Linked DNA regions of Homo sapiens. The protein of the gene in region 2 interacts with the protein of the main gene of each other region in a biochemical or structural test. Each region holds a gene or a part of one and is shown on either strand. Other genes may lie near its edges. The genes, in order: NSF, GABBR2 and KCTD12.

Evidence for each region.
Region 1: the proteins of GABBR2 (region 2) and NSF form a complex in vitro, tested with the Homo sapiens proteins (one study listed by IntAct).
Region 3: the proteins of GABBR2 (region 2) and KCTD12 form a complex in vitro, tested with the Homo sapiens proteins (2 studies listed by BioGRID).

What each region holds. Positions count from the first base shown.
Region 1 is NC_000017.11:46,592,205-46,602,134, forward strand, and holds part of NSF (vesicle-fusing ATPase), read left to right. Parts: intron 1-9,930.
Region 2 is NC_000009.12:98,704,120-98,714,784, reverse strand, and holds the start of GABBR2 (gamma-aminobutyric acid type B receptor subunit 2 precursor), read left to right. Parts: upstream 1-5,849; 5' UTR 5,850-6,047; coding exon 6,048-6,368; intron 6,369-10,665. UniProt on the Homo sapiens protein: Component of a heterodimeric G-protein coupled receptor for GABA, formed by GABBR1 and GABBR2. Within the heterodimeric GABA receptor, only GABBR1 seems to bind agonists, while GABBR2 mediates coupling to G proteins.
Region 3 is NC_000013.11:76,883,406-76,893,268, forward strand, and holds the start of KCTD12 (BTB/POZ domain-containing protein KCTD12), read right to left. Parts: upstream 3,001-9,863; 5' UTR 2,744-3,000; coding exon 1,766-2,743; 3' UTR 1-1,765. UniProt on the Homo sapiens protein: Auxiliary subunit of GABA-B receptors that determine the pharmacology and kinetics of the receptor response. Increases agonist potency and markedly alter the G-protein signaling of the receptors by accelerating onset and promoting desensitization.

The DNA.
Region 1 (9,930 bases), on a different chromosome or scaffold from region 2:
CCTCACCCTCCTCTACTTTGTTATTCATTGCTGGTATTCCTCAAAGGCCGTCTTCTCACTCTCAATTTCCCGCTCAGGCAATTTCTTCTAAGCCCATAGCTACAACTGTCTATATGCCAGTGATTCTCAATATTTTACCCCCAGTCCAGACCTGCCCTTTAAGTTTCAGGTTAATATGTCCAACTGCTTATTTAAAATCAAGGTCCCGAAACGCAGCTTTTTCAACTCCGAACCCAGGATCTTAGCCCACCTAACTTGTGTAGATACTCCTCGACTTAACGATGGGGCTACCTTCCGATAAACCCATTGTAAGCTGAAAGTATCAGAAGTTGAAAATGCATTTAATACACCCGATCTACCGAATATCATAGCTTAGCCTAGCCTGCCTTCCTTACACATGCACAGAACACTTACATTAGCCTACAGTTGGGCAAAATCATCTAACATAAACCTATATTATAAAATGTTGAATACCTCATGTCATTTATTACTGTGCTGATAGTGAAAAACAGAATGGTTGTGTAGGTCTTCAAAGTACAGTTTCTGCTGAATGCCTATCACCTTTGCACTATTGTAAAGTTGAAAAATGTTAAGTCAAACCATTGTAAGTCAGGGACCATCTGTACCTATCCAGTGAGATAGGAATATCTCACTGAATGATACCATCATCCACCCAGTTATATAGGCTGGGAATCTGAGGGAGGGAGAGGGTGGGTAACCCTTTATGTCTCTCTTTTGCTGTACCCATGTCCTCTGCCCTATCCCCCGGTAAAATTTGTCAGAGTTCTGCTCCTGCCCCCCATAAAGGTATTTAATTAGGGCCAAAGACTCTGGTTTGGGGGAATGGTTGCTTTAGACTAGTTCCAAGTCACCCACTGGACTATCTGGATTGGTCACATGGGTTCTGTCATTTTAACCTAAAAATCTCCAGTCTGTCCACCTTTCCACATCTTCATTTTTACCTCCTTTTCCCAAACTACCATCATTTCTGGTCTGGACTACTGCAGGAAGCTTCCAAGTATTTTTTTGTTCGTTTGTTTGAGATGGAGTTTCGCTCTTGTTACCCAGGCTAGAGTGCAATGGCGTGATCCCTGCTCACTGCAACTTCCGCCTCCTGGGTTCAAGCCATTTTCCTGCCTCAGCCTCCTGAGTAACTGGGATTACAGGCGCCCACCACCACACCCGGCTAATTTTTGTATTTCTAGTAGAGACGGGGTTTTACCATGTTGGCCAGGCTGGTCTCGAACTCCTGACCTCAGGTCATCCACCTGCCTTGGCCTCCCAAAGTGCTGAGATTCGTGCCCGGCCTCCCAAGTAGTCTTCTTAGAGCATGTGGCCCACCTCCAATTCATTCTTGACCTTCATTGTTCCTTCCCGTGCCTATTACTACTTAAACCCCTCCTCAGCAGCATCCCATTACTTTTGGGAGAAAACCAAATCCTTAATGAGGCCTTCAGGACTCTTTGTGGTTCTGCTCCTGCTTCTTTCCACTCATTCTCTTACTCTGTGTGCTCAGGTTATATGGTAAACGAGCCTTTCAATTCCTTGAACCTGTAGTTTCTCTTACCACAAGGTCTTTGCGAGTGGTGTTTCCTTTCTTTGTAACGTTCTTCCCCCCAACCATTTACCTCCTACTCAGACATCACTTAGCTACTCAAGGGAGGCCTACTCTGACCCCACATTATAAGTCAGGATCCTTTGTTATATACTCTTGAAGAACTGTATTCCTCTCCTTAGAGATTTATCTTTTTGTTACTTTGAGTGTGTGTTATTATTTGCTTCTACCACTTCACCTCAGTGAAAAGCAGAGAACATACAAGTTATTTAGTCATTATCAACTGCGCTTTGTGTACCTTGTGGGACTTAGGTACTCAATACATTTTTGTTGAAAATGAATCAGTCTCTGAACACTCTGGTGATAGATGGTATATTACCCTAAAGCTTGCCTGTAATGTCATACAGCTATGTTAGGTCTTTGTTATCTGGAGTTCCATGTAACTTTTATACGTAGTTACTATTTCTGCTGTTTCAAGCCATACGGAACTAAACACAATTCTTTTTCCATGTAATAGCTACTCAAGCTACTCATTTACTTGAATACAGGTTACATATCTCCTCAGATTTTCGATTTTGCAAGTTAAACATCCCCCAATTCCTAGCATATTTCATATTCCAAACCCTTCATCATTTAGGCTACCTTCCTCTGGAAGTAACCTAATGTTACTGTTTTGTCAACCTTTCTTCTAAAATGTGCCCAGAGTGGAACACAGTGATCAGAGAAGAATGTACTTAAGCTATTATTGTCTTGAGATGGACACTACCATTATTCATACCAGATAAAATTGTATTAGCGTTTTTTCTATAGTAAATCACATTCTTGGCTCATACTGAGCTTGTAGTCAGTGAAAACTCATGTTCTTTTAAAATCAGCTCCCTAGCTCCATTCTAGGTTTAGAGCAGTTTTATTGAACCTAAATCAAGACCTTATCCTTTTACAATTCATTTTTTTAGGTCAGTGCATGTCTGCTGTTTGTTGAGGTAATCTGGATTCTTAGTTCTTTCATGTTAGGAAACATAATAGCTGTCTCTTCCAGTTTGGTTAGATCTGTAGGTTTAATCATGACTTCTGTTTCTACGTTTGAGTTATTGGTAAAGGATAGAATAAGACAGGGTCAGAAATAACCCTTGGACATGCTGCCAGTGACATGCCTCTAGACTGATACCCATTAATACACTTGGGCACTGTTGCTTAAATACAGATGTGTCTCATTTAATTCCAACAAAACAACCTGCAAAGTAGGTAGTATTATCTTTGTTTTTTTGCAGAGAGAAAGAGAGAGAGATTTAGTAACTTGAGAAGTTCACATAGCCAGCAAGAAGCAGGGTCAAGATTTGAACTCAGATCAGCCTGGTACTGTTACCTAGTTCACCAGCTTAGTTGCAAGAGTGTAGTAAAGACTAGGTTTACCTCACCTAGAACTTTTTGGACATAATAATGTTCAGAAACTATCTTCTACCTTTTGGAAAATCTGAAAAACTTTGGCCCATCTGATTGTCTATCATTTCTTCTGATAGCCTTTATTTTCTAGTAACTACTGAGTGATTTTTAGCAAAAATAGTTCACCTTGTTGCAATACTTTTATTTGTGCATATTTATGGAGTACATGAAAATTTTTTTACATGTGTATAATGTGTAGTGATCAAGTCAGGGTACATGAGTCCAATGTATTAAGTATAGTCATCTACTCAGCTATCAAACATTGAATTTATTCCTCCTATCACTGGATCTTTTTTTTTTTTTTTTGAGACGGAGTCTTGCTCCGTCACCCAGGCTGGAGTGCAGTGGTGTTATCTTGGCCTCACTGCAACCTCTGCCTCCCGGGTTCAAGCGATTCTCCCGCCTCAGCCTCCTGAGTAGCTAGGATTACAGGCATGTGCCACCACGCCCAGCTAATTTTTGTATTTTTAGTAGAGACAGGGTTTTACCACATTGGTCAGGATGGTCTTGGACTCCTGACCTGGTGATCCACCCGCCTTGGCCTCCCAAAGTGCTGAGATTACAAGTATGAGCCACCGCGACTGACCTCATTGGATCTTTTTACCTTTTAACCCACTTCTCTTCAGCCTTTCTCTCCCTTACTCCGCCTTCCCAGTCTCTGTTATCTATTTTTCCACTCCCTGCCTCCTTGTGTTCAAATTTTGTAGCTCCTACATATATGTGAAAGCATGCAATATTTGTCTTTTTGTGCCTGGCTTATTTCACTTAAGAGAATAACCTCCAGTTCCATCCACATTGCTGCAAATGATATGATTTCATTCTTTTTATGGCTGAATAGTATTCCATTGTGTACATGTATGACATCTTCTTTATCCATTCATCTGTAGATGGACACTTAGGTGGTTGATTCCATATTTTTGCTATTGTGATAGTACTGCAATAAACATGCAAGTGCAGCTATCCCTTTGATACATTGATTTCTTTTCCTTTGTGTAGATACCCAGTAGTGGGATTGCTGGATGGAAGGTAATTCTATTTTTAGCTTTGAGAAATCTCCATACAGTGTTCCTTAGTGGTTGTACTAGTTTACATTCCCACCGACAGTGTATGTGAGAGTTCCCTTTTCTCTGCATCCTTACTAACATCTGTTACTTTTTGTCTTTTTAATAATAGCCATTCTGACTGGGGTAAGATGATATCTCATTGTGGTTTTGATGTGCATTTCTCTGATAGTGGTGTGGAACATTTTTCCATGTCTTCTTTTGGCCATTGTATGTCTTCTTTTTTAATGGGATTATTTGTTATTTTCCTTTTGAGTTGTTCGAGTTCCTTGTATGTTCTGGATATCAGTCCTCTGCTTGATGAATACTTTGCAAATATTTTCTCCCATTCAACAGGTTGTCTCTTCATTCTGTTGATTATTCTTTTGCTGTGCAGAAGCTTTTTAGTTTGCTTAAGTCCCATTTGTTTAGTTTTCTTTATGTTACCTGGGCTTTTGATGTCTTAATCATAAATTCTTTGCTTACACCAATGTCCAGGAGTGTTTTCCCTAGACTTTCTTGTAGTATTTTTATAGTTTTGGGTCTTAAAATCTTCAATCCATTTTGAGTTGATTTTTGTATATGGTGAGAGATAGGGGTCTAGTTTCACACTTCTGCATGAAGTTATGCAATTTTCCCAGCATCATTTATTGAAGACAGTGTCCTTTCCTTAGTGTGAGTTCTTGTCAGTGTTGTTGAAGATCATTTGTCTATAATTATGTGGTTTTATTTCTGGATTCTCTATTCTGTTCCATTGGTCTACATGTCTATTTTTATACCAATACCATGCTGTTTTGGTTACTATAGCTTTATAATATATTTTGAAGTCAGATAATGTGATGTCTGCAGCTTTGTTCTTTTTGCCCAGGTTTGGTTTGGTTGTTTGGGCTTTTTTCTTTTTCCTTTTTTGGTCCCATATGAATCACATTGGTATTTTGATAGGGATTTCATTGAATCTGTAGATTGCTTTGGCAATATGGTCATTTTAGTGATATTAATTCTTTCCACAAGCATAGGATGTTTTTTGATTTATTTTCTTTCATTGGTGTTTTGTAGTTTTCTTTGTAGAGATCTTTCACCTCCTTAGTTAAATGTATTCCTAGGTTTTTGTTTGTTTTCGGTAGCTATTGTAAATGGGATTGCCTTCTTAATTTCTTTCTTGGCTAGATCCTTATTGATGTATAGAAATGCTACTGATTTAAAGGTTTTCTAAACCTACAGATATATAATCAGCAAAGAGACAATTTGACTTTCTCTTGTCCAGTTTGGATGCCTTTCATTTCTTTCTCTTGTCTGATTGTTCTGGCTAGGATTTCCAGTACTGTGGTGAATAGGAGTGGTGAAAATGGGCATCCCTGCCTCATTCCAGCTTTTAGAAGAAAGATCTCACCTCTCCTCATTCAGTATGATGTTAGCTCTGGGTTTGTTGTGTATAGACTTTATTATTTTGAGATATATTCCTTCTATGCCTAATTTGTTGAGAGTTTTTTTAATCATGAAGGGATGTTGAATTTTATCAAATGTTTTTGTTGTTGTTGCAATACTCTTTTTTTTTTTTTTTTTTTTTTTTTTTTGAGACAGAGTCTTGTTCTGTTGCCCAGGCTGTAGTGCAGTGGCGCGATCTTGGCTCACTGCAACCTCCACTCACTGGGTTCAAGCAATTCTCCTGCCTCAGCATCCCTAGTAGCTGGGATTACAGGCCTGTGCTACCACACCCAGCTAATTTTTCTATTTTTAGTAGAGACAGGGTTTTGCTATGTTGGCCAGGCTGGTCTCGAACTCCTGACCTCAAGTGATTTGCCTGCCTTGGCCTACCAAAGTGCTGGGATTACAGGCGTGAGGCACTGAGCCCGGCTGTTGCGATACTCTTAATGGGTTTTATATTTCCTTTTTGTGGGGGACAGTTTATTTTGCATTCTTACTACTTTTGATATTCTGACATCATCTTATAAGTGGGATTTATATTCACTATGTAATTGAAGTTTTTTCCAATGAAGCACCGTATATAGTTTATCTGGGAAATTGGCTGAAGAATAAAATGTGTGATGTTATTCAGTGTACAGTTTCTAGGTCATCAGAAGATACCACTACCTTCCCACTACTGGAAAAGAAAAAAGAAAAGTTTTCCACAGTGCCTGAACTGTTTTGTATGCTTATCTTTTAAAATTGCCAGAAATCTCACTTACTGGAGATTCAGCAGTCCCTTTCTGAAAATACACATACTTTAGTGCAAATAAAGCCAGTGGATCTCTTTCTTCATAAGTCCTTAAACCTAGTCGAGGTCATCTGTTTGGCAGAGATAGGAGTAAGATAATGTGAAATAGGAACCAACGAGAGAGAACTTGCTTAGGAGTTGAAAGGGGTATGGAAAGATGTTAGAGGTAAAATTTGTCGAATCTAGTGTTTTGACTAGGGCAGGCCAGAATATTCAGTATCAGTATCAATATCAGAAGCTTTTGTAGCCTTTGTTTAGAAACCTAGTCATTTATAACATTTTGTGGGTGAATGACATCATTACCAAACAAACTTTCAGATGAAACTTTGGAACTCAAGCTGTAAATTGTGGATAGCTCATGTGCAGTACTACAAATCAAAACAAATACTATAAAGTGTTTGGTAGTCCATTTCCTGAATGAAAGTTTGTCCAAAGTATATCAACTTTCTGCAGTCTTACATGCAGTAGTTATTAGTTTTGTGTATCGCTTTAGTGGATATTTTTAAAAGTATCTTCAAATGCAATGAATTTTAGGAAACAAAACAATTCTTTAAAGCATCATTAGATAGCTTCTTCTTTCTGAAACCCAGAGGAATTTATGTATAGGATGACTCTTTTTTTCAAGTAGTTAAGTTAAGGTGCAAAAGTATAAGGTAAAGTATATTATCTTACCATTGAAAATTTTGGCAGTGGCAGAAGAGCGAACCCTTACAAATACCTTCATTGGGCAATACACTAAGCACTTGCTGTAATGCTTTTTAAAACATCTATACTCTGGCTGTGGTATTTTAAGTGAAAATCTCTCAGTGAGATACTCTTTCGTATTTTAGTACTGATATCCTTAATATTGCTCTGAGAGCTACCTTATACTGACTTCAGTTTCCTAGTGATTTAAACTACTAATTTCCAACTTATTTTTTTTTATAGTGAAAACTAAATATTCCTTTTGTAGATGTAACCATTTCTGGAAGCCCTAAGTATTTTTGAATGAGTATAATTCATGCACACTTTAAGAGATTTCAAGCATGACAAGCACAGTGAATAACATATATCCATGTGATTACCACTGAGGTTTAAGAAATGTTAACATATGATATCTGCTTCAGATATTTATCTTTTTAAAAATAGAACATTACAGCTGGGCATGGTGGCTCACACTTGTAATCCCAGCACTTTGGGAGGCTGAGGCTGGTGGATCACCTGAGGTCGGGAGTTCGAGACCAGCCTGGCTGACATGGAGAAACCCCGTCTCTACTAAAAATACAAAATTAGCCGGGCATGGTGGCACATGCCTGTAATCCCAGCTACTCGAGAGGCTGAGGCAGGAGAATCGCTTGAACCTGGGAGGCAGAGGTTGCGGTGAGCGAGATCACAACTCCAGCCTGGGCCACAAGAGTGAAACTCAGTCTCAAAAATAATAATAATAAATAAAAAATAGAACATTACAGATCCAATTGACTCTTCTTTGTATTGCTCCTTTTTTTTTTTTTTTTTAGTTTTATTTAAAAATTTTTTTTAGAGGCTGAGTCTCACTTGGTGGCCTGGGCTGGAGTGCAGTGGCGCAGTCATAGCTCACTGCAGCTTCACACTCCTGAGCTCGAGCAATCTTCCTGCTTCAGCTTCCTGAGTAGCTTGGACTAGCAGAGGTGTGCCACCACATCTGGCTAATTAAAAAAAAGTTTTTAGAGATAGGATCTCTCTGTGTTGCTCAGGTTAGTCTCAACACCTGGCCTCAAGTGATCCTCCCACCTCAGCCTCCTGAGTAGCTGTGGTTGTAGGTGGCAGCCACCACACCTGGCAGTATCCCTTCTTGAGACCACTGACCTTTCCCAGAAGTAATCACTGTCCTGAAGTTGGTATAGATTCTTTCTGTCTACATCTATGCATGTTTATGCTCAAAAACAATATATTGCTTTGTGTGTCTTTAAAATGTATATAATGGTTTTATGCTATATCTTTCTTTCTGCAACCTGCATTTTTCACTTAAAATAATTTTGAAATTTAGTCCTGTGGATATATAGTGAGCCAATTAATTCTGCTTAGCTACTCTGTAGTCTGTTTTGTGAATATACCACAATCATCTACTTTCTTATTAGAGGACAATTTAGGCAGTTCCAATTTTATTTTTCCCGGAATGTACATTATTTTAGTCGAGTGCCATTGCCACATTAGCGATATTTTGGTTAGTGAGGGACTGCAGATAGGAAGGTGATCCCAAAAGATTATAATGCCATATATTTACTCTACCTTTCTATATTTACATATGTTTAGTTACACAATTACCCATTATGTTACAGTTGCTTACAGCATTTGGTGCTGTAACATGCTGTACAGGTTTGTAGCCTAGGAGCAATAGGCTATACCATATAGGTTTGTGTAAGTACGCTCTATGATATTCATATAACGATGAAATCACCTAGTGACACATTTCTCAGAATGTATCCCTATTGTTAAGCAACACATGAGTGTGTGTCTCCATGCATATATGTGTAAGAGTTAGCATGTGTGTCCAGAGGTAGAATTGCTGGGCGATAAGTCATACTCATCTTTACCTAGTTATGCCAGTTTATACTGTCACTAGCAGTATATGAGTACCTGTTATTTATATCCTCTCCAACACTTAATATTGCTGACATTTTAACTTTTACAATATAATAGGTGTAAAACTATTGTTTAAATTTGCATGTTGTCCTCATTACTAGTGAGATTAAGCATTTTTCATATTGGTCATTGGGATTTCCCCTTCTGTGAATTACTTTTGTATATTTGCTCATTTTTTCTGTTGGGCTGTGTATTTTTTTAGTGATTTGTATAATTTTTCGTTTTTTGGGGGGTAGGGTATGCTTTGGATTCTAATCCTTTGTTGTAAATAGCTTCTCTCAGACAGTGATGGTCTTTTCATGATGTTTATAGAGTGTTGGATTTAAATTTTATAGTTATAATTACCCTTTTTTTTTTTTTACCTTGGTGATTTGTGCTTTTATGTGTTTTTCAGGAAATCTTTCTCCACCCTGAAGTCATTTTCTTATAAAAGTTTTAAAATTTTGCCTTGCACATTTTGGTGATTGATCAGGAATTTATTTTTGTGTTTGGTGTGAATTATGAACTAATTTTATCTTTTCCATATGTATAACCAGTTGTCTCAATATCATTTATTGAGTCCATTTTTTTCCTTTACTGATTTGCAATGCTATCTCTGTATTATATCCAGTTCCCATATATGTGTGGGTCTAAGTGTCGACTCTATTCCGTTTCATAATTCTTTTTGTCCATATTTGCATCAATAACACTGTTTTAATTGCTGTAGCTTTAAAATTATTCTTGTTATTTCATAGGGCGTACTTTCATTACCTTTCTTAATTTGGCATTTCTTGGCTCTTTTCCGTATGAATTCTGGGAACAACTTAATCCCCACTCCTTTAAAAAAAAAAAAAAAGACACTTTGGCCTGGCATGGTGGCTCACACCTGTAATCCTAGCACTTTGGGAGGCTGAGGCGGGTGGATCACTTGAAGCCAGGAGTTCAAGGCCAGCCTGGACAACATGGCAAAACCCTGTCTCTACCAAAAATTAGCGGGCATGGTGGCACACGCCTGTAATTCCAGCTACTTGGGAGGCTGAGGCATGAGAATCAGCTTGAACCCAAGAGGTGGAGGTTGCAGTGAGTTGAGATCGTGC
Region 2 (10,665 bases):
TGCAACAGGTTAAAACCCGGTAAAAGCTGTAGAAAGGCCTACTGGTGGAGCCTAAGAAAAAAATGTGTGAAAACCTCATGAATCAAGTAATGAAGTGGGAACCTCAGCAGGCACTGATCTTGCCATCTTTAGCAGTAATATAATTATTTATTACATGCCTAATAAGTACCTAGTACTGTGTTAAGAACTTTATATGCATTATCTTAATAAGGGAGATAATTACATGTAAAGTGGTTTAAACAGTGTCTGGCACATGTGAATGCTCACTATGTGTTAGCTATTGTCATTATCTAATCCTCACAATAACCCTATGAAAGAGGAACCTTTATTGTTCCCAGTTTACAGATGGAGAAAATGAAGCTCGGGAAGTTAAGTAACTTACTCAAAGTTGCACCACTAATACTTAGCAAGCCAGAATTTGAGGCCAGGGCTGCCTGACTCCAAAACTCACCACTGTCCCTAAGGGGTAAAGAGGGACTCATATGTTTGGAGGGGTAGGAAAAGAGGCTTCCTAAGCCTGTTCTTCGTCTAAGGTTCTGTTCTAAAACTCTCCCTCTTGTCCATCCTGGGTCCCCTTTGTTAATAATCTAATTGTTTTTGAAACCTCTAAATGAGAGAGGATTTAATCCCTGTTGCCAGTCTGTGTTGTTCTGGAGACCACCCAATTACAAGCTAAATGTCCTTTCTGTGTTCATTCAGGACCTGTCCCACTGACCTGAATCAATCTTCCACAGTTCTCAAACCACATGAAGAGTATGGGTAAAGGAGGAGGCTCTGGGCTCTGCTGGCCTGCCCTAGCCTTGCCGTTGACTCTTTTTTTTTTTCTTTGAGATGGAGTCTCGCTCTGTCACCCAGGCTGGAGTGCAGTGGCCCGATCTCGGGTCACTGCAACCTCCGCCTCCTGGGTTCAAGCAATTGTCCTGCCTCAGCCTCCTGAGTAGCTGGGATTACAGGCCCATGCCACCATGCCCGGCTAATTTTTTTTTTTTTAGTAGCGACAGGGTTTCACCATGTTGGTCAGGCTGATCTTGAATTCCTGACCTCGTGATCCGCCCGCCTCTGCCTCCTAAAGTGCTGGGATTACAGGTGTGAGCCACCGTGCCCAGCCGCTGTTGACTCTTGAAGGATTTAGTCATAGACTCTCCAGGCCAGACACTCTCCTCCCTGATAACCCAAAAGAGGACCCAGATTCTCTTTAACTCAGTGGAGTTCCCTGGTTAGCTCATTTCACTTCTTTCTGGTGTGGACCCTCAGCAGTGTTCTTTGTCTCTTTAAGGCTGTCCTATTCAGTTCTATAAAGGCATCTTCAAGGAGAGGCAAGTAGAGCGGAGACAAATGCAGGAATTTGGGGTCAGGCAGGACTGGGTTTGACAGGACTGGTCAGACAGTACTGGGTTTGGACCCCCTTGCTGCCTCTGCCAAGTATCATTAGGCACACCATTTCATCAAGCTGTACCTTAATCTCTTAATTTGCAAAACTGGGATCCTAACACCAATTTTTCAGGCAGATGTGAAGATTAAGATGATGCATACCAAGGTGTCTGGCACAGAGTAGGTAGGTGTTTAATAAATGGTAGCTATTGTTATTACTCAAGCTGTGTCACCAGACCACATATGATACCTGAAACCTAATTTTATGGTTTAAAAAACATGCCTTGTGAAAAGGGATATGCAACTTAGATTCATTCAGTTAGTCTTTTTTAGAGCCATCATTCATAACTTACCATTTTTAAAAAAGCAAGGAAATGAAAATAAATAATGCACTTCAAGAAAAAAAATAGGCTGCCAACTACTTGGTTGAAAGAAACATTTCCATATAAACATGAATGAGAAATAACATGGGAGATGTTTGCAAAGATGGCATGTGTGTGCCTATGTGTGTGTATGTAAACCATACACACACACACACACTCTCTCTCTCACACACACACACACAATTGCAGCTCCACCCTTCCAGTCTCAATCCTATATATTAGTTTGGTACAAAAGTAATTGCAGTTTTTACCATTACTTTCAATGGCAAAAACTGCAATTACTTTTGCACCAACCTTATATCAACTATATATATATAGTTTGTTTTGTTTTAAAGAAGAAAGTGAGAGAAGACCTTGCTGCTGTTAGGAGTTAGAGTAGAGGCAGGCATGGATAACAATCAAATGGGGAAAAGGGTGTTAAAAACTGGACCCAGTTCCTGGAAGGAGGCAGCTCTGGAGGGCAGATCTGAGCAGCCCTGGGTGGCACAGGGTGTCAGCCCAATAAGGAAGGAGAGCAGACAGCAGAGAAAGGCCTGGTTAGCTTCCCAGCATCAGGATCCTGTTCAAAGGGATGGAGTGTCATGTTGACAGGGAGCCAGCTGGACCATGGAGCCCCAAAATCCCCAGAAAGGAAGCGGGCACCATCTCTCAACCTCTGAGCTGGGGTTTAGAGACTGGCTTCTGTGTGTAGGCAGAGGGTTTGTGAGAAAAGATTGCTAAGGAAACAGGATTATGCAAACAAGATAATAATTTAAGCCATACAGACCTGGGCTAACACGGATGTTTCATTACTTCCTGGAGGTGCAACCTGAGCACGTTGCTTTCTAAGTCTCTATTACATCTCTTAAAAGGTAGATGAGTTCAAGGGAATCAAGTGTTTTCCACATTCTGGGACTTGGCCAATGCATTTTATTCCAATTAATAAGAAGCACAATGATTAGCCAATTCTCATCCTCTCTTCTGCTTATACCCTGGCCTGGCCACCAAATGTGCTTATTGTAGTAGAGACTCCTAACAGGTATTCCTGCTCACGCTCTTTTCCCCTGCTAACGGTTCTTCACTCTACAGCCAGAGTGATCCTCTTAAAATACATCAGATCATGTCACTGCTCCACCCAGTAGCCTCCCACGGTTGCTGTTTCATGTGCCCTCCCAGTGCTGAGGCCCCATACAGTCCTACCTGCCTTTGACCTTGGATCTGATTGCTTTCCCTTTGCCCACTCTGCTCTACCACATTGGCTTCCACATTGTTCCTTGAACATGCCAGGCACACTCCTGTCTCGGAGCCTCTGCCCTTGCTGTTCCTCTGCATGGAACACTATTCGCCTGTCTCTCTTACTTACCTTCTTTATGTCTTTGCTGAGGAGTCACCTTAGTGTGTCTTTCCCTGACCTCCCTATTTCAAATTGCAGCCCCACTCTGCCAGTCTCAATCCTCTTTCCTGCTTTTTTGTTCACCATAGCACTTTTCATAAATGGGCATACTAACATATCTTCTTCTTCCTATTTATTGTTTCTCTTTCTCCACTAGAATGTCAATTCTACAAGGGCAGGGATTTTGTTCTGGTTTTTTCCTTCCTATATCATCAGCTCCTAGGACAGTGCCTAGCAGGTAGCATGCCCTTCAAAACACTGGTCAAAGGAATGAATGATTATTATAAAGCAAGACGCTGGACCCCAGCTCTGGAGGAACATGCATTCTAGGCTGGTGACTGAGGCAGGAACTCAGACTCAGGAAGCACATCAGGGATGCAGTTACCCAAACTGTAATACCAGGCCAGAGTAAGATCTTGGAACCAGAGGGATGCCCAGGCATTAGGAGTGGGCTGTGAGATCAGAGATTGGCCTGGAGCCATGCTGATGGAGAGTGAGATTGGTGCCCCCTGGGTCAGGGCAGATCCCAGGTCATGCGTCTTGGGGCCAGGTCACCCCACCATAAAAGAAGACAGAGGGGCTGTAGGGCAGGATGCCAGGTAGGGCCTTCAACCCCTTAGTAAATGTCAGGCAAAGTTACCCAGCTTTCAACTTATTCCCAGATGTAGGTGTCAGTGGACACTCTATATTGGCACAGCTTGCAAGGAGGACACAAATGACTAAAGGAAAGAATTAGAAAAAAGAAAAAAACCAAGTGAAAATGTTCATTCAGAAACCTGAGCTAAGGGTTTGAGGAATGGCAGGTGCCAGAAGACTATGACTGGAGGATATTTGTGATGTCAAGTGAGACAGCAGTTGAGCGAGTATCTGGGGATTACACTGTCCTTTGGACCATTTCTTTCCCTCCCTCCCTTCCTTCCTCCCTTCCTGGAGGAGATGCTCAGGTGAGTTCTGTTCATGCAAACCCTCCAGCTTGGGGAAAAGGAAATGCCAAGTGGAGCCGGGAGAGGTGGAGTCTATAGAAGCCTGGAAAGAGAAGTTAGGGCAGAGAGAATTTGGCCTGGTTTCCCTGGCGCTGTCCAAGGTACTCTCTAGTAGTTCTGCTCAGCCTCCACTCACATCTTTGTGCTTCCTAACAACTCAGCCTGGATTCAGAGCTGCCCTTGCCTCACTCCAGTAGAGCTGGTGTGTGGCCATCATCATCATCATCCGGTCCAAATCCCTCACCATATGCCGGAGGGAATCGATGTCCAGAGCAACTGAGTCAGGGCAGTGCTCCTCCTGGAGAGGAAACTTGCAGTCCCACATCCCTGGCTCCCACTGCACTGTGCACGGAGTTCCTGCTGGCTCTGGGTTCCGGTCCTTCAGTAGCTCTGTGTGCTTCCACTAGCTACAGAACCTCTCTGAGCACCAGTGTATTCGCCTGTAAAGTAAGGGTGAGTAACACAGTATGCTTACAGGGCAGTTGTGGGGATTACATCATAAGGCACACAGTAAGTACTCAGCGAAGGTCAAACTTCCATTCTTGTTACAAGGTCGTCGATATCTTCCACAGTCCCTGGTTCAGGCTCAAGTATGTTTTGTGATTTGATGTCCTACTGTGTTCCTCGCATTAATCAGCCCCTGGGACTTTATAGATTAATGATCACGTTTCCTATTCTTGAAGTATGCAGAGGCACAAGGAACCCAAGGTCTTAGGTCAGCTCACTCGGGTACATCTGGCTCGGGACTGCTTTGGCTAAGATTGGCCAGTGCGACCTGGCAGAGAGAGGGCCAAGTCCAGGGGCGCGCGGCCCCGCCCTGGCCTGAGGATAGTGCTCCCACCCCGGGAGACTTCTAGGGCGGGGCCCATCAAGAATGGGGACGCGGGGAGGTCAAATGCCTGGAGGGGGCGGTAGCGCACGTAAGGTTGGGACCCCAGCTTTGCTTGGGGTTGGCAAAGGGCGGTCGCTCCGTCTGGTGGGGAGGAAAGGGGTGTCCTCAGCCAAGGCCCTAAAGGCCGGGCAGCCTGGCACCAACGGGCGTTCGAGCACCCGTGGGCGTCTTCAGCGACCCCCGGGACTCGGTCAGGGGCTCGTGGGCGCCAGAAAAGAACGGGAGAGCGTAGGCTGCAGATGCCTCTGGGACGCCTTCGTGGAACATTCTCCTGCCCAGACCTTCCCGGCCAGACCTCCGAGAAGCGGTTCCAAACCACCGTGCAGGTGCTACAGGCAGCGCTCGGCGGAGCGGCGGCGGCCACTGCGTGTGCCAGCGCGCGGTCCCGGTTCCCAGATCGCTGTCCCCGGGCGCTCTGGTGCCTGGAGGTCAGCGGTCGGCGGGCAGCGGCAGCTGGCGCAGCGGAGGGCCGGGGGCGCGTGTGTGCGTGTGCTGGGAAGGTGGCCCTCCCCGCGGCCGCCGCAGCGCCAGCGCCTCCCCCTCCCCCGGCGCGCACGGCTCGTCCCCGTCCCTGGAGGCGGCCCGAGCCGCCCCTGAGCAGCCTCGCCTTCGCCTCCCGCGTTTCCTGCCGTCCGCCCTCCCCCGGCCGAGCTCCAGGGGCTGCCGCCTAGCAGCTCCCGGCGGGAGAGCGGTTCAGAGCGCGCACGGGGGCGGGCGGAGGCGGCCCGGTGCGGGGCGGCCGCGCTGGAGAGAGGCGCGCGCGGAGACGCCGGCCCCCCTCTCCGCGTTTGCTCGCTTGCTCCCCGCCTCCCGCACTCCGCTCGCTCCCACCCCTTCCCGGCGTGATTGATCCGTCACGGGCGCCGCCGCTGCCGCCGCCGCCGCCGCGGCCGTTCTGAGCCGAGCCGGAACCCTAGCCCGAGACGGAGCCGGGGCCCGGGCCGGCGCCATTGCGCGGGCGCCGCGGGAAGACCTTGGCGCGGGGCGGCGGGCCGGGCCAGGCCATGCGGGCCGAGTGAGCCGGCGCCCGCAGCCCGCGGCGCGGCATGGCTTCCCCGCGGAGCTCCGGGCAGCCCGGGCCGCCGCCGCCGCCGCCACCGCCGCCCGCGCGCCTGCTACTGCTACTGCTGCTGCCGCTGCTGCTGCCTCTGGCGCCCGGGGCCTGGGGCTGGGCGCGGGGCGCCCCCCGGCCGCCGCCCAGCAGCCCGCCGCTCTCCATCATGGGCCTCATGCCGCTCACCAAGGAGGTGGCCAAGGGCAGCATCGGGCGCGGTGTGCTCCCCGCCGTGGAACTGGCCATCGAGCAGATCCGCAACGAGTCACTCCTGCGCCCCTACTTCCTCGACCTGCGGCTCTATGACACGGAGGTGAGTGTCCGGCTGCCCCTGCCGTCGGGGCTTCGGGGGGCATTGGGGTGGGTGGTTTGGACACAGGCAACCTCCGGCCTTTGGTCAGATCCCCGATTGACCGGCCCGCGCCTGCCGAGGGCAGAGAGGGCTGGTGCCCAGTGTTCACCCCCGCGGTCCTGCTGGGCTTGGCTGGCACAGCTGGTAACATTTGCCAAGCACCCCCTCCTCTGGTCTTATGTGTGTATGTGTGTGTGGGGAGGGGTGGGGGTGGGATAGAAGACTGGGGTCTCTTTTGACCAGAGAAAAAGGAGTGGAGAAGGTGGGGGCTGGACCCCCAAAGGCCTACATTGATTGTCCCTGTCCAGGTCCCGCTCATGGGGCTGCGAGGTACCGAGTGGGAGGAACAGGCGCATTGACTGCAAACTGGGCCACCCAGGGCCGGAGGGGCCGCGGGCCTGCTCACAGGCCCCCAGGGAAGCCGAGCCGCGCTTTGAGGTCCGGAAGGCTCCGGAACCCAAGGGGCTTGAGCGTGCAGCGTGGCTGGGCGCCTGGTGCGCGCCAGCAGCTCTGAGCCCGCTCCGCGCGGGCAAGTGTGGGGCCACCGGCTCTGCAGCGCTTCTGCCTGGACGTGCCCGGCGCTGCCTGTGGCCAGAGCGATTTCAGGAGACCCCTGCCTCGGGTTAGTTGCTCAGAAAGTGCCCTGGCAGTTCTCGTCCCGGACGTGCAGTGGTGTCCGGCCGCGCCGCTGCTGTTGGCCGGGCGGCTGCAGGCAGTTTCTCACGGCTCAGGCTTGAAGCATCCGACCTAGCAGCCGGAGCACAGACTTGGAGAGCAGTCCGGAGCGGAGCCAGAGAGCCAAGGGCTTTCCATCCCAAGACCCCTCCCCACGCCCTCGGTTTGGGTTCTGCCTGAAGCCCCAGAGCGGACCTTCACCGCCAGGCCGGGGCTGGAGCGCGCGGAGCGGGTCTGGAGGAGCGATCGCTGGCCGCGCAAGGTCGGGTTTGCGAGTTTTTCCGGACCGAGCGAGCCCCTGTGCTCCGACCGCAGCGTCTGAGACGCGGCCTGAAGGGGGCAGTGATTTCCTGTGCAGTACGCTCGGTTGGCGCCTCTTCCATCGCGCGGAACGGGGCCGAGGCGCTGGGCTTGATCCTGGCTTCCTGGGACTCTCCGGGCGCTTCTGCTGGAGTCCAGGTGCAGAACCCTTTTGGGAGGAGGGTCGCGCTACTGCTCTGGTGGTGCAATCTGGGCTTCCCCTCCTCCTTGGTCGGACCCTCTTTATGTCCCCAGAGAAAGAGCAGAATCTAGATTGTATCTTATTCCCTGCCTCCCCCGCTTCACCGGTGAACCAGCTTGCTCTGCGCTGTAAATAAAAGGTGAAGGAACCGGTGGCAGTTGGCAGCGGTACGCGCAGGCTGCTGCAGGCGGAGAGGCGTCCTCTGCCCCAGAGGATGCAAGCTGGCTGGCTGTGCAGGGCTAACCCGGTGTGAAATCATTTCCGAATGACATTCCTATCGCCCTCGTCTTTGCCTGAGCATCTCAAGTTCTGTGGGGGTACTTGTCTGGCACACATAAATGGAGACAGCAATGCAGTTACACGGAGGCATATCTTCTTGACAGTTTCTCTGTTGCTACTGCACATATTCTTCTGGAGGGGTCACTGCAAAGCCGGTCTTTTGGGGACAAACACATTTTTAGATAGGGCAGCCCTGCTTGCATCATCACCAAGTATTGTCAGCTGCATAATGTTTTCATCATCAGTTTCTTCCCTTTAGAAAGCTTCCCTGAAAGAGATTTCATACTGGCCTGTTTGTGGCAGCAAAGAGATGGGTGCTTCGTTTCAGGGTGTGGGTTGAAGCCTTTACATTTTATTTTTCGAGTGTGTCTTGATGACTTTCTGAGTGAAAGGACCCAAAGTCAAGAGGATGAGACAGTCAGAAGACTCTTCAATTCGTGGGAATATTTAGAAAACAGTGGGAAGGAAGACAGAAGATAATTTTAGCTTCGTGCAAACAGAGAAGTGTCTCTAGCCTTTTGAAGGGGCCCAGAGCCAGGGCTTTGGGGTAGGTGGGGCCTGGGTTTTAGTGAGAAACTGGTTACTTTCCACCCTGGATGACCTTGAGCTGGGTATTTAATCTCTCTAAGCCTAGGTGGGAATATTATGTGTACTCTGCAGGTGACACACAGCTTAAGGAAGATAACAGGCCAGGGTAGAAGATGCCCTGAGCTGGCAGGCTCAGCGGCCAGTGCTCTGGCATGCTGTAAGCACTAAATAAATGTGTCCTGCTGCCTCCCCTCCTCCTCCTCCTTCTTTTTTTTTTTTTTTTTGTTTTTTTTGTTTTGTTTTGTTTTTGTTTTTTTGAGATAGAGTTTTGCTCTTGTTGCCCAGGCTGGAGTGCATTGGCGTGATCTTGGCTCACCGCAACCTCCACCTCCCAGGGTCAAGTGATTCTCCTGCCTCAGCCTCCCGTGTAGCTGGGATTACAGGCATGTGCCACCATGCCCAGCTAATTTTGTATTTTTAGTAGAGATGGGGTTTCTCCATGTTGGTCGGGCTGGTCTTGAACTCCCGACCTCAGGTGATCTGCCCACCTCTGCCTCCCAAAGTGCTGGGATTACAGGCATGAGCCACCGTGCCCAGCTCCCTTCCTTCATTTTTATTTCCTGTGAATTCACAAGTGGCCTTATCTTTAAAGTAGAGGTGCTTTCTCCCTGAGCCAGAGTGAAGGAAGGATCAGTCTAGGTAATTTGCAGCAAAATCTAGAGCGATCTAAAGAATGTTTGTGGCTAGTGTTAGAGTGTTTAGGGTCTAGTTTATTCAGATTGGCTGTCTTTGTGGACACTGCCTAATTATTTGCAGGCTGTGTCACATTGTTTGTAGACTTTAACACAGGGTGGATGTGGTGAACAGATTTTGGCTGGATTTGCTGACATTTGCTGTCAATCAGTGGCCTCAATGGCCAGTGACTATGGGCACCAGTATGGACCTTTATCCATATGATCTGCAGAGAGATGGAGATTTAGCAAGGAATGGGTTAATCTGGTCCCTGGGGACAATCTGTCTCAATAAAGGAGCCTCCTACAACCAGATTGACTCTCTTCTGTAAGTAGAATAGTGGTAGATTTTCAAAACCTCACTCAATGCCATGTGTTGGTAAAAATGAAACAGCCTAACAGAATACCTGTCTATCAGAACCTCTGCTTCTCTGGTGTAACACCAAATGGCTTCAGCAAATACTCGTTTATATATTCCAATGAGGATTTGAACAAGCAAGACAACTGAAAATACAGATAAAAGAAAGCATCAGAAACTATGTAGAAGCATAGAAGTTACTATACCAAGAACCTGGGCTAAAATTTATTGCATTGAGTATTATATTTTAGCTCTGAGCTTCCTGGCAGTCAAGGTAAAAAGGTAAATGTACCATATTACTTAATGTTTGATCTAAAAAATCTGAGAGACAATGACTTTTTTTTTTTTTTTTGAAAGAGTTGGGGGTCTCATTCTCTTGCTCAAGCCAGACTGCAGTGGTACATCATAGCTCACTGCAGCCTTGAACTCCTGGGCTCAAGTGATCTTCCTGTCTTCAGAAATGTTCTCCATGTGATTGTTTCTTATTCTAGCCACACTAATAAAATAAAATAATAGCCAAGGAATGAGTTAAAGATATTTTTTTTCAATTTGATTAATGTTCATTGTGGAAAAGCTGAAAATTACAGAGAAGCATAAAGAAAAATAATTGCCCATAATCCATCTACACAAAAATAATAACATCTAATAATTAGCATCATTCCCTTCCAGTTGTCATTTTTTACTATTTTATGTACTTGAGATCATACTCCATGTGCTCTTTTATGTTTTTTTCCTTCAGTTAACATTGTATCATGGGTTTTTCCCCATGTCCTCAAATCCTCCTTGTAAAGATGATTTTTGGTGGCTGTATACTATTCTATCCTGTGGGTGAACCATACGTATTTAATCATTCCCCTATTGTTGGACCTATATGTTTTCTCATGTGTTACTATCTTAAATCATTCAATAATAAACTTAGAGAAAGTTCAGGGAGCCAAGGAGCCCAGTCTAGGGGTACAACTGTCAGAAAGACCACCCTGATGCCAAGATCCAATGTAGAAATCCCAGTGATTGTTGAGCATGTCTTTTTTCTTGAGTGGCTTTGCCAAATATCTTTTCCCTTATTCACTATGCTTTAAAAAGGATTTAAAGGACTGTTGAATTGAGGCTGTGCTTCCTAAAAAGGTCTGAGTACAGCTCAGCAGGTGTTTACTGAGCACCTACTGGAGCTGTTGATGCTGCAGA
Region 3 (9,863 bases), on a different chromosome or scaffold from region 2:
AATATCCAAAGGACACCTCACAGCATGGAGCATGACGAGGTTTATTTCCCTTCACTTATGGTTTACATAGGATATGCATTGGGAATTTATTCCATGTAAGAGTAAAGGCATAAGGCAACCAGGTCTCCTTCTGTTTCTGTTGCATTTACCTATTATTGGACCATTTTATTGCTCAGCTCACTTTTAAGTACTTATTTGCCTTCATTTAAAAATATTCCATTTTACAGCTATCTACAGATAGGCAGCCCTTGGTGCTGAGTTCTCTGCAGCTCGTCATTTGAAAGGATTCCACTTAACTTCAAACAAACTGCATGAAAGTGGCATTTTCAGGTTTTCAGGTTTGCCCAGAAGTCAACGTTTGCTGGGCTTGGAGAAAATAAGGATTTTTAATAAGTGATCTTAGGTCTAAGTAACCAAAATGAAACTTCTTTTGCGCAATAGATTCCAAAATCAGGATTTATAATCAACAAGAAAATAAAAGTTCAAAAACTAAAACCCTACTGGGTAACTCTTTGGTTAGATTATATATAAGCATTAACAACTCTAAGTTTAGGACTCAAAACAGTAAGTTAAGTAAACTGCCAGGTAAGAGTAGGTCTGTTATTAATCTTTATAAAATACTTGGCATGTTTGCATTTACTATATGATATTTTTTAAATGTGCATATACTCAAACAGATGGTACAAACTTCCAACTTTCAAATCATAAATGACTATGTCTGCTTCTCCCTTCCCACCCTTCCTACCCTTTCCTCCCTCCCCACCCCACCCCGCCCACCAAGTCTTACAGCTAAAGGAAGGTCCTACTGACATTCATTGAAAGAATACAGGCTTTCCTAATACCCACGACGTGCACTATGACCCAGCTCCCTACAGTCACTGCCAGGTGACCTCCTACGGCGCTTGGAGACCTGAGCAGCCTTGCACTCTTAGGCGGCAGCGTCCTTTCTCCCTCTTGCCAGTAACTGCTGCCATGTCAACCAGTGGAATCAAGGGCTTCTGGCGAGCAGCAGCTGAAAAGGGCGCCTCTGCAGGCAGGCGGATCACTTTCTATAAGTTTAAGCTACAGGCTGAGACCTTTTATTCTGTACGAGAAAGGATCCTTTACTGTCCCACGCACTAGATTCTTCTACTTTACGTGTAACTTTTCAAAACTTTATTAGTTTAGTTACTGAACTGCCTCCATGGGGTCCTAATTCCAGGCTCAGAATCTTCCATCCAGCCTTCTAAAACTCTACCTTCAAAAGAGGTCAAAAAGACTGTGTAATGACCTTGTAAAACACTAACCCCAGACAGTGGAACCAATCCTGATCTCTTAAACCCCCAGTGAGTCATAAGAGCTTGAGAAGATTTCAAGGAAATCTTCCGCACATTGGACACGGTCCAATCAGGTTCTGAACAATTCAATCATCCCCCGGTCTGTGGCCACACTCCCCCAATAGATCCAAACTGAAGTACCATCTGGGGGAGGGGTGGTTTGAGGCAGGGAGTAGAGAAAGCATGGAGTGGTAGGTGGGGGTGGGGTGGGGGTTCCTCTGGGTTCTCTCGGTTCAGGAGGTCCAAAGAAGACGAAGCAGCCCAGAGGATTTGCGGCTGCAGGTTCTGTAGTGGAGGGAAGGTGGGCGGACAGGTCTCACCCAGCTACTACTGGAGGGGGAGAATGGGAGGGCAGCAGCCAGGGGACAAAGGTGGGACAAGAGGCTCTGTAATCATCTCTCGGGCAGGAGAAGGACTGGGCGCTGGAGTGGCGAGGGGGTCTGGGGAGCTCACTCCCTGCAGAAGACGTACTCGGTGTAGCTGGTCCAGATCTTGTCCTCGCTCTGGTCGGTGCTGCTGGCAAAGGCGCAGGTGCCCGTGGAGCTGCACGCCACCATGTGGAAGCCCGACTCGGACAGCTTGTCGAAGGCCTGCTCCAGGAAGTTGAACTTGAGGTAATAGCGCGAGGTGTAGCGCTCCGGGGGACGGTCGGGGTCCCGGCTTTCGTTCAGGGTGTCCCCAAACACCTCCTTGGCCAGCGACGTCTTTCCGCAAACGGTGATGCGCGCCACTCGCCGGAACTTGGCGTCCGCCTGCGCGTCCCGCCCGATGGTGTAGGAGCCGCGGTAGCCGATGGTGATGTAGCCCGAGCGCCGGCTGCCGTCCAGCGACTGGGACGGCGTGAGCAGCGGGCCCGCCGCGCCCCCGGACGGACTGCGGCTAGCCAGCTCCAGCGTGGGCGACGGCGCCCCGGCAGAGGCGCCCTCCTGCTGTTCGGGCTCCGAGTAGCCAAGCGGCAGCAGCTCGTCACCCAGCGAGCCCTCCTTGTGCACCCCGCGCCGCGAGGGCGGCGGCCCCGGGCCGGGCTGCTGGGGCGCCCCGAGGCGGCGCACGAGCTCTGGCAGCTCGAAGTACTCGGCCTCGCGCTGCAGCCGGCTGCGCTCGGGGAAGTAGTCGGGCAGCACGAGCTGCAAGTCCCGCAGGTAATCCAGGATGTAGCGGAAGAGGAAGCCGTCCCGGTCCAGAAAGAAGCGGCCTTTGCTGTCCCGGGCCAGCTCCTGCGGCTGCTGCTGCGTGAACATGCGCCAGAGCAGCGAGTCGGGCACCGACACCACCGTGCAGCGCCGGGTCACGTACACCTGGCCCCCCACGTTCAGCTCCACGATGTCGGGGAAGAGCGGTGGCTCCGCGGAGGACGACGAGGAGCCACTGCCGCCCCCGCCGCCGCCCCCGTTGGGTAATCCACGTGTGCTGTCCGCCAGAGCCATGACAGAGAGGTGGCCGGGCCGGGACAGTGGCAGGAAGCCGCGCTGCACTCAGGAGCTGCAACCGCCTTCCCCGGAGCCCCGGAACCCGGACGCTCGCTCAGCCCTGCGCCCCGCCGCCGCCGCCGCCGCCACCGCCGCCACCGCCACCGCCGCCACCTCCTAGAGCCGCGCGGAGCCGAGCGGTGCGAGCGCGCCGCTGTGCGCCCCCTTGAGTTCCAGTGCGCTCCGCCCGCCTTGCCCGCGCGCTCCAGGCGAGTGCCGGGTCGCGGCCCGCGCGCTGCTTAAGTAGAGCCGCCTGCTCTGGTGCCGTGGCGCGCAGGAGGCGTGGGCGGCGGCGGAGCCTCGCTTACCGGGCGAGGGGAGGTGGGGAGCGGGGACTCGATTTGCATCTTAAACGCGGACGCCACGCGGGGCTGCTGGCTCCACCCCGGCTCGCGAGCGCTGGGGGCGCCCGGACTCCCACCCGCTCCCCACCCACCAGCCCCGCCCCGTGGTCCCGCCCAACTTTCTCCCTCTTCCGAAGAGGACCCGCCCGAGACTTGGCGGCTTCGGAAGACAGCTCCTTGGAGGGACAGTCACCGCGCCCCCTCCCCTCTCGCCCCAGCCCGCACCCAAGGACTCTGGAAGGAGGACGTGAACTTTCGGAAGCCTGTCGCCCCGGGAGTGGAAATGCGTGGCCGCCTCCGGCCCTCCCGCCTGCGGAACTGGGCGCTTCCAGCAGTGCAGCTGCGGCCTGCCATCGTTGGTTGTCGTGTCACTGAAAGTAGAGAGACGCGAAAAACCTGGAGAGACGAAAGAGCCGCCCCAGTCCGAGCGCAGCCAGATTTTGTTCAAGTTGCCTTGCAGCCAGCCTGGAAAATAAATAAATAAACCTAGAAACAAAAAGCAAACCTCAGTGTCCCGCAGTAGGATGCTTTACGATAGTTTATTTTCTGGCTGCAGAGACAAAATGAGATGAAGCTTCAAATCTGCTCTTAATTGCAATTCCCTCTTCCCGCAGGGCCTTCGAGGCACTTCACTTCGAAGTGAAGGGGTAAGACTCCGGAACGTTCGGTCTCCGGGTCCCATTCAGCCTTCGTTGAATCGCGCCCTTAGACTCACAACAGTTGCAGATCTAACGTAATTTTTAAAGCCACCTTTGGCGCCTGCATGTTTATCCTTCCAAAAGTCCAGGCGCCCCTTCTCTCCCGCATGCCTCGGTCACTCTTCGGCCCTGTCCAAGTTCCCGTCAGTCTCAGAAAGGGATATTTATATATCTGAAGGCCCTTGTCTGGATCCCATCTCTCAACTCCTGCTGCCTACACGTTTGCTTTTCCCCCTCGGACTGCAGCCCACAGAACCGCCCCCTCCCCCTGGAAGCTTTCCCTGGCTTCCCAGGTGGGTGGGGCCTCTGGATGGCTCCCTACACACTGTCTGCGCTGCTCCCAGCACGTTCTGAAATGTCATATTTATGAGTGATTATCTGATCACTGATTTGGGTATGAAAATAAGTAAGAGCTCCTGAATGCTGCAAAAAGAGAAGAGTGCAGAGGAGGGTGTCAAGAAATGATTGGGTCACTGAATGTTTCTTGTGTACCTGCTATTATTTGCAGGGCACCAGGGAGTGAGGAATGCAAAGGCGAATAATCTCCAAAGCGCTTTCAGTGTAGCCCAATAAGCAAAGGGTCAGGGGTCTGCGCAGTTATCACATCAGTTTGAAGTATAGACCACACATCAGGATAAATCAGGCAAGATCTTTGTTCTTGATAAAATTTATCCTTCTGTGTAACTACCCAGTGAGCTTCACAGTCTCCTCACAGATAAATGTCATTTTTATTTTGAAATGTTTATATCTGCTCAACAATTACCGCGCTCATGTCAGTGTGCTGAAATGAGATCAACCCCCAAACCAGTTATCTTAATTGCAAGTACAGATTTTGATACTGAATGTATTTCAACATTCTTTTTTTGTTGTTGTTCTGTTCTTTGGGATAAATAATAGATAACACAAAACTTCCAAGTCCCAGTGCAGGATTTCGAGGTGGTTGTGCTACTAGGCGTTATATTAGTGTCAGAGACCTGACAAAACCAGCCTCTTTTCTACAAATCCAAGAAAAGCCTTCTTTGTATCAGTTCTGCACATATTTTTGTATAATTACCATTGCTCATTGCATCAGCAAATCCTGCCAGCTCTGTGTTAAAAATCTTTCTAGACTATTAACGTATTTCACCATCTCCCTATCATCACCCTGGACCAAGCCACCATCATCTCTTGCCTGGATTATTGCACTGGTCTCCTAACTGCTTCTACTTCTGCTCCTACAGTCTTGTATCACCAGAACAAAAACAGGGACCCTGCTTATAATCCAAGGCTGGTATGTCACTCTGCTCAGAGCCTGCCAGTGGCTTCCTATCTCAGAAAGAGCAAAATCCAAAGTCCTCTCAGTGGCTTACAAGACTCTACATGTTTGGAGTTATCCCACCAGCACCTCTCTGACACATCTCCTGCCCTGCCCCCAGGAGCTGGCTGGCTTTAGCCACATAGCCCCTTTCTTGTTTTCTCAGGGCCTTTGCACATCCTTGTAAAAGTCTCATTTCTCCTCCCTCCCGTGTTCCTCACCTTGTTCAGGTCCCTCCCTTCTCACCTTCTTCAGGTCTGCCCAGCAAGACCTTTCCTTGATTCCACTTCTTAATGCAGCACAGCCTCACTGCAGCTTCCTCTTCCTTGCCTTATTTGTTGACTCTTTTCCTACATCAGAATATAAACTCCAAGACTTCAGCAGTTTTTGTCTGCTTGGTTCACTGCCACACCCCCACTGCCTAGAACAGAGCTGGTATATTACAGGCATTTGATAAATATCTGTTGCTCACGCAAGCATTCAACCACTATTTATTCAGGGCCTACTACTATATTCCAGGCTGCATGTTAAAAAATAATCACTGCCCACTAGGAGCTTATAGTCTTGCGAGGGAGACAAATAAATATAGTATAAAGATAAGTAAGCCTATTTCAGGTGGTGATAAATGCCACAAAGAAAATAAAATTATAAGATGTGATAGAGGGACTGAGTGTGGAATACTACTTTATACAGAGTGCCTGGGGAAGGCATCTCTGTGAATGTGACATTTGAGCTGAATAATAAGAAAGAGACAGCCATGGGAAGTTTTGGAGGAAGAGCATTCCAGGCACAGGGTCAAACAAGTTAAAGGGGCCTGAGTTATGAGTGAGCTCACATTGAAAGTTTATGTATTGTGTCATCTACTTGTATCCTGTGAATCTCCAAAGTACCCTTGAGATGATCAGTACAGAGTCAAATGTGAGTGATACCGTGTGCTTATTCACTACCTGCAGCCTACTATCATCATTCTCTACATCTTGACATAAGGTAGTCATCAACCACCAGCTAGTCTACTGCAGAAAAGCCATTGGTATTTCCTTATGGAAGCCAGGTAATGCATGAGAGATATAATAATGAATGAAACAGGTGATTTGAAACACAAGGAATGTTTTTCTAGTTAATTTTGTGTGTTCTGTTTCTTGCCTATTGGTTGGTATCACAGAATTCAAAAGGAAATACTACTGGGGAACTCTGATGCTGGGACTTGAGGGCCTGAGTGTTTATAAGAAGAGAGTCATAACTCTTTAGCATCTCCAGTATGTTAAATATGCTTGATTGCAAGGGATTGGGGAGGATTTGGAAACCCACTAGCCCTGTGTTTAGTCTCAAACCAGTTTCTAATGATGGTCATTGCTAATTGATGGTCATTGCTCCTTTTCAAGTAACTCTTTGTATTTTCCTGAATAAGATACAGTGTGCCTGCAAGTAACCTGTCCTTTGATCCTAAAGTGGAGGATACTGGAAACATCTCTGGACCTACATTCTCATCTCATTTGCATCTTCTCCCCCACCTACTGCCTTCTCTTCAAACCAGCTTCCCCTCCCACTCCCCACAGTAATCCTTCTTATCCAAAGTTTCCATTACCATGGTTTCAGTTACCCATGGTCAGCTGTGGTTTGAAAATATTACATGGAAATTCCAGAAATATAACTAATTCATAAATTCAAAATTGCACACCATTCAGAGTAGTGTGATGAAATCTCCCACTGTCCTGCTTCGTCTTGCCCTGGACATGAATATCCACACCTCTACACTCCCAACCCATGAGTCACTTAGTAGCCATCTCAGCTGTCAGATCAACTGTCTTAGTATCACCCTATCACAGTGCTTGTGTTCAAGTAACACTCAGTTTACTTAATAAATGGCCACAAATTACAAGAGTAGTGATGCTGGCAATTCAGATATGCCAAAGAGAAGCCATAAAATGCTGCCTTTAAGTGAAAAGGTGAAAGTTCTCAATTTAATAAGAAAAAAAAAGTTACATCCCAAGGTTGCTAAGATCTATGATAAGAATGTAGACATTGTGAAATTTCTGTGAAATTATGAAGGAAAAATTTGTGCTAGTTTTGCTGTCACACCTCCAAACACAAAACGTATGGCACAGAGTGCATGATAAGTGTGTAGTGAAAATGGAAAAGGCATTAAACTTGTGGATTGAAGACATGAAGAGAAACATGTTCCAATGGACAGCAATCAGGTTCAGTACTACCTACGGTTTCAGTCACCCACTGAGGGTCTTGGAATGTATACCCTTTGTATGAAAGGAGACTACTGTATTCTGCATACCAAAGATTTAAGGAAAGGAATGAGGAACATGAAGAGAAATATAAAGTTAAAGGGGAGGAAGAACTGGTGAAATGAAGTGAGTGCCTTTGAGAATTGAATGAATTTAATATATGTGAAAATGATCTGTACATTGTAAAACACCATTCAAGTGTCAGAATCATTATTTTCCACCACTTATCATGGTGCTTGACAAGTCTTCCCAATAAATACTGAATGAACAAATGAATGGCAGAAACATTAAAATGAACACTATGGGGAAAGGGGAAGAGAGGCAGAATCAGAAATTATCCTGAATAAATATTTATTCCATTTGTCATCCTCCTAATATGTGTGAATCTTTTCTCCATGCAGGCTTTAGAAGTCATTGACTTTTTGCATTTAGAAGGAGAGATTAATTGAATAACATTAAGTGAATCCGGAGGCAAAATGATCTTAATAAAGATTTGGTAAAAGATGTGACAATATTTAACCTGAAGAAAAGAGAACAAAATGTTATATAGGGTACACTGCCAAAATACTAGGTCTAAATTCCAGTTACTCAGGAGGCTGAGGCAGGAGAATTGCTTGAACCTGAGAGGCAGAGGTTGCAGTGAGCCAAGGTCGCACCACTGCACTCCAGCCTAGGCAACAGAGCGAGACCCCATCTCAAAAAACAAAACAAACAAAAAAAAAAAACAGGTCTAGACAGTAAAGAATATCCCAACATTGTATGATTATCTCTAGAGTATGATTTTTATGATTTATAGAACCAAACAAAGAAACAAAAGTTAACAATGTTGATATTTCTATACCCTTAAGATGGTGTTTGGAGCTTATCCAGGAAACAAATAATATAACAAGCATGTATAGAGTACTTACTATGAGCCAGCCCTATTTATAGAACTATACATGTATGAACTCATTTAATCCTAACAATAACTTTATGAGGTTGGTGCTATTACCCAAGTTTTAGATGAGAAACTGAGGCACAGTGAACTAATTTTCCCAAGATCATACAGCAAATAGGTGCTGGAGCTGGGATTTGAACCCAGGCAGTGTAGCCTTAGAATCTGTGCTTTTAAACACTGCATTTTAAATCCCCTTTCCTCTAGGAGTGCTTTACATGTATTAAGAAGTAAGTTATATTATTTTCCCCCTTTACAGATGAGAAACCCAAGGCAAAGAGAAGTAAGGTAACTTGACCAAGATAACACAGCTCTTTATCTCTGCTGGGGGCAGAAATGCTACTCTAAAGTCTACGTGCTTGTGTTCCGCAGTACTGGTAACCAGAAACTCAAAGTAGCCACCCTGAAAGAACTAGGGTTAAGAAAGAGTCAAGTCCTTGGCCCTTATTTCTTCTTTCTGCCTTCTTTTTTCCTTCCAACCTATTTTAGGTTTATGGGTACCTGTGCAGGTTTGTTACACAGGTAAATTGCACGTCGCAGGGGTTTGGTGTACAGATTATTTCATCACCAAAGTAATAAGCATAGTACCTGATAGGTAGTTTTTGGATTCTCACCTTCCATCCAACCTCTACCCTCAAGTAGGCTCCAATGTCTATTGTTCCCTTCCTTGTATCCATGTGTACTTTTACCCAAATAAGAATCTCTATTTGAGCCCCTGGATAGAACTGACACACTATTGTCCTAATCTTTCCCTAATTCAGTCCTGTACACAAAATAAACAAGATTTTATTTCTGGCTCTCTCAAATATCATTACGGTTTGCAAAGCACCAAGTTCCTAGCATGTTCATTTGGCTTTATTCTGATCTCATTAACTCTTGACAAGGATAAAGTGAATCCATGGAAACTGCTGAGATCTAGGTTCCAGTTTCCCAAAGCAAGCAGTATCCACTGGTCTTCTGGGGCTCATAAAATTGAACAAGTGCATTCTACTTGTGGCTTTGCATATCAAACTGAACACAAAAATAGCTGGCCCTCATCACTTGAGTGATTCTGGAACTTCTGACTAAGACTAATTATTAACATCACTGATGTTTCATAAGAATTTGAAAGTCTTGGTTTCCAATCATGATATTAAATTTAGAGAGGAACTATATATAAGTTATCACATTCTAATCACATTCTAGTGTTTTTCTGTTTCGAGTGTTTTCATATTGTCAGGTTGACTTAATTATCACAATTTTGTGAGGTGTTAACCAACCTGTGTTCCAAATGAAGAAAGAAACTCAAAAAGGTTAGGTGACTCACACCTCCTCTCAGGTGGCTGGGATGCAGTGCTGGGATGCACGTGGATGCTTCCTGATTTCATATCCCATGCTCTTTGAACTCTTCAGCAGCCATATCAGCTCCATTTAACACCCAAATGAAGGTTGTCATTCAAAATAATCACCTTGAAGACTATATACTCCTTTGAGGGATGCTGGAATCACTCACCATTTTTGGTACATTTGTTTGGAAATTTTCTTCAAAGCCAATTTACACAAGAATATCACCCTATTATTTTATACTTATG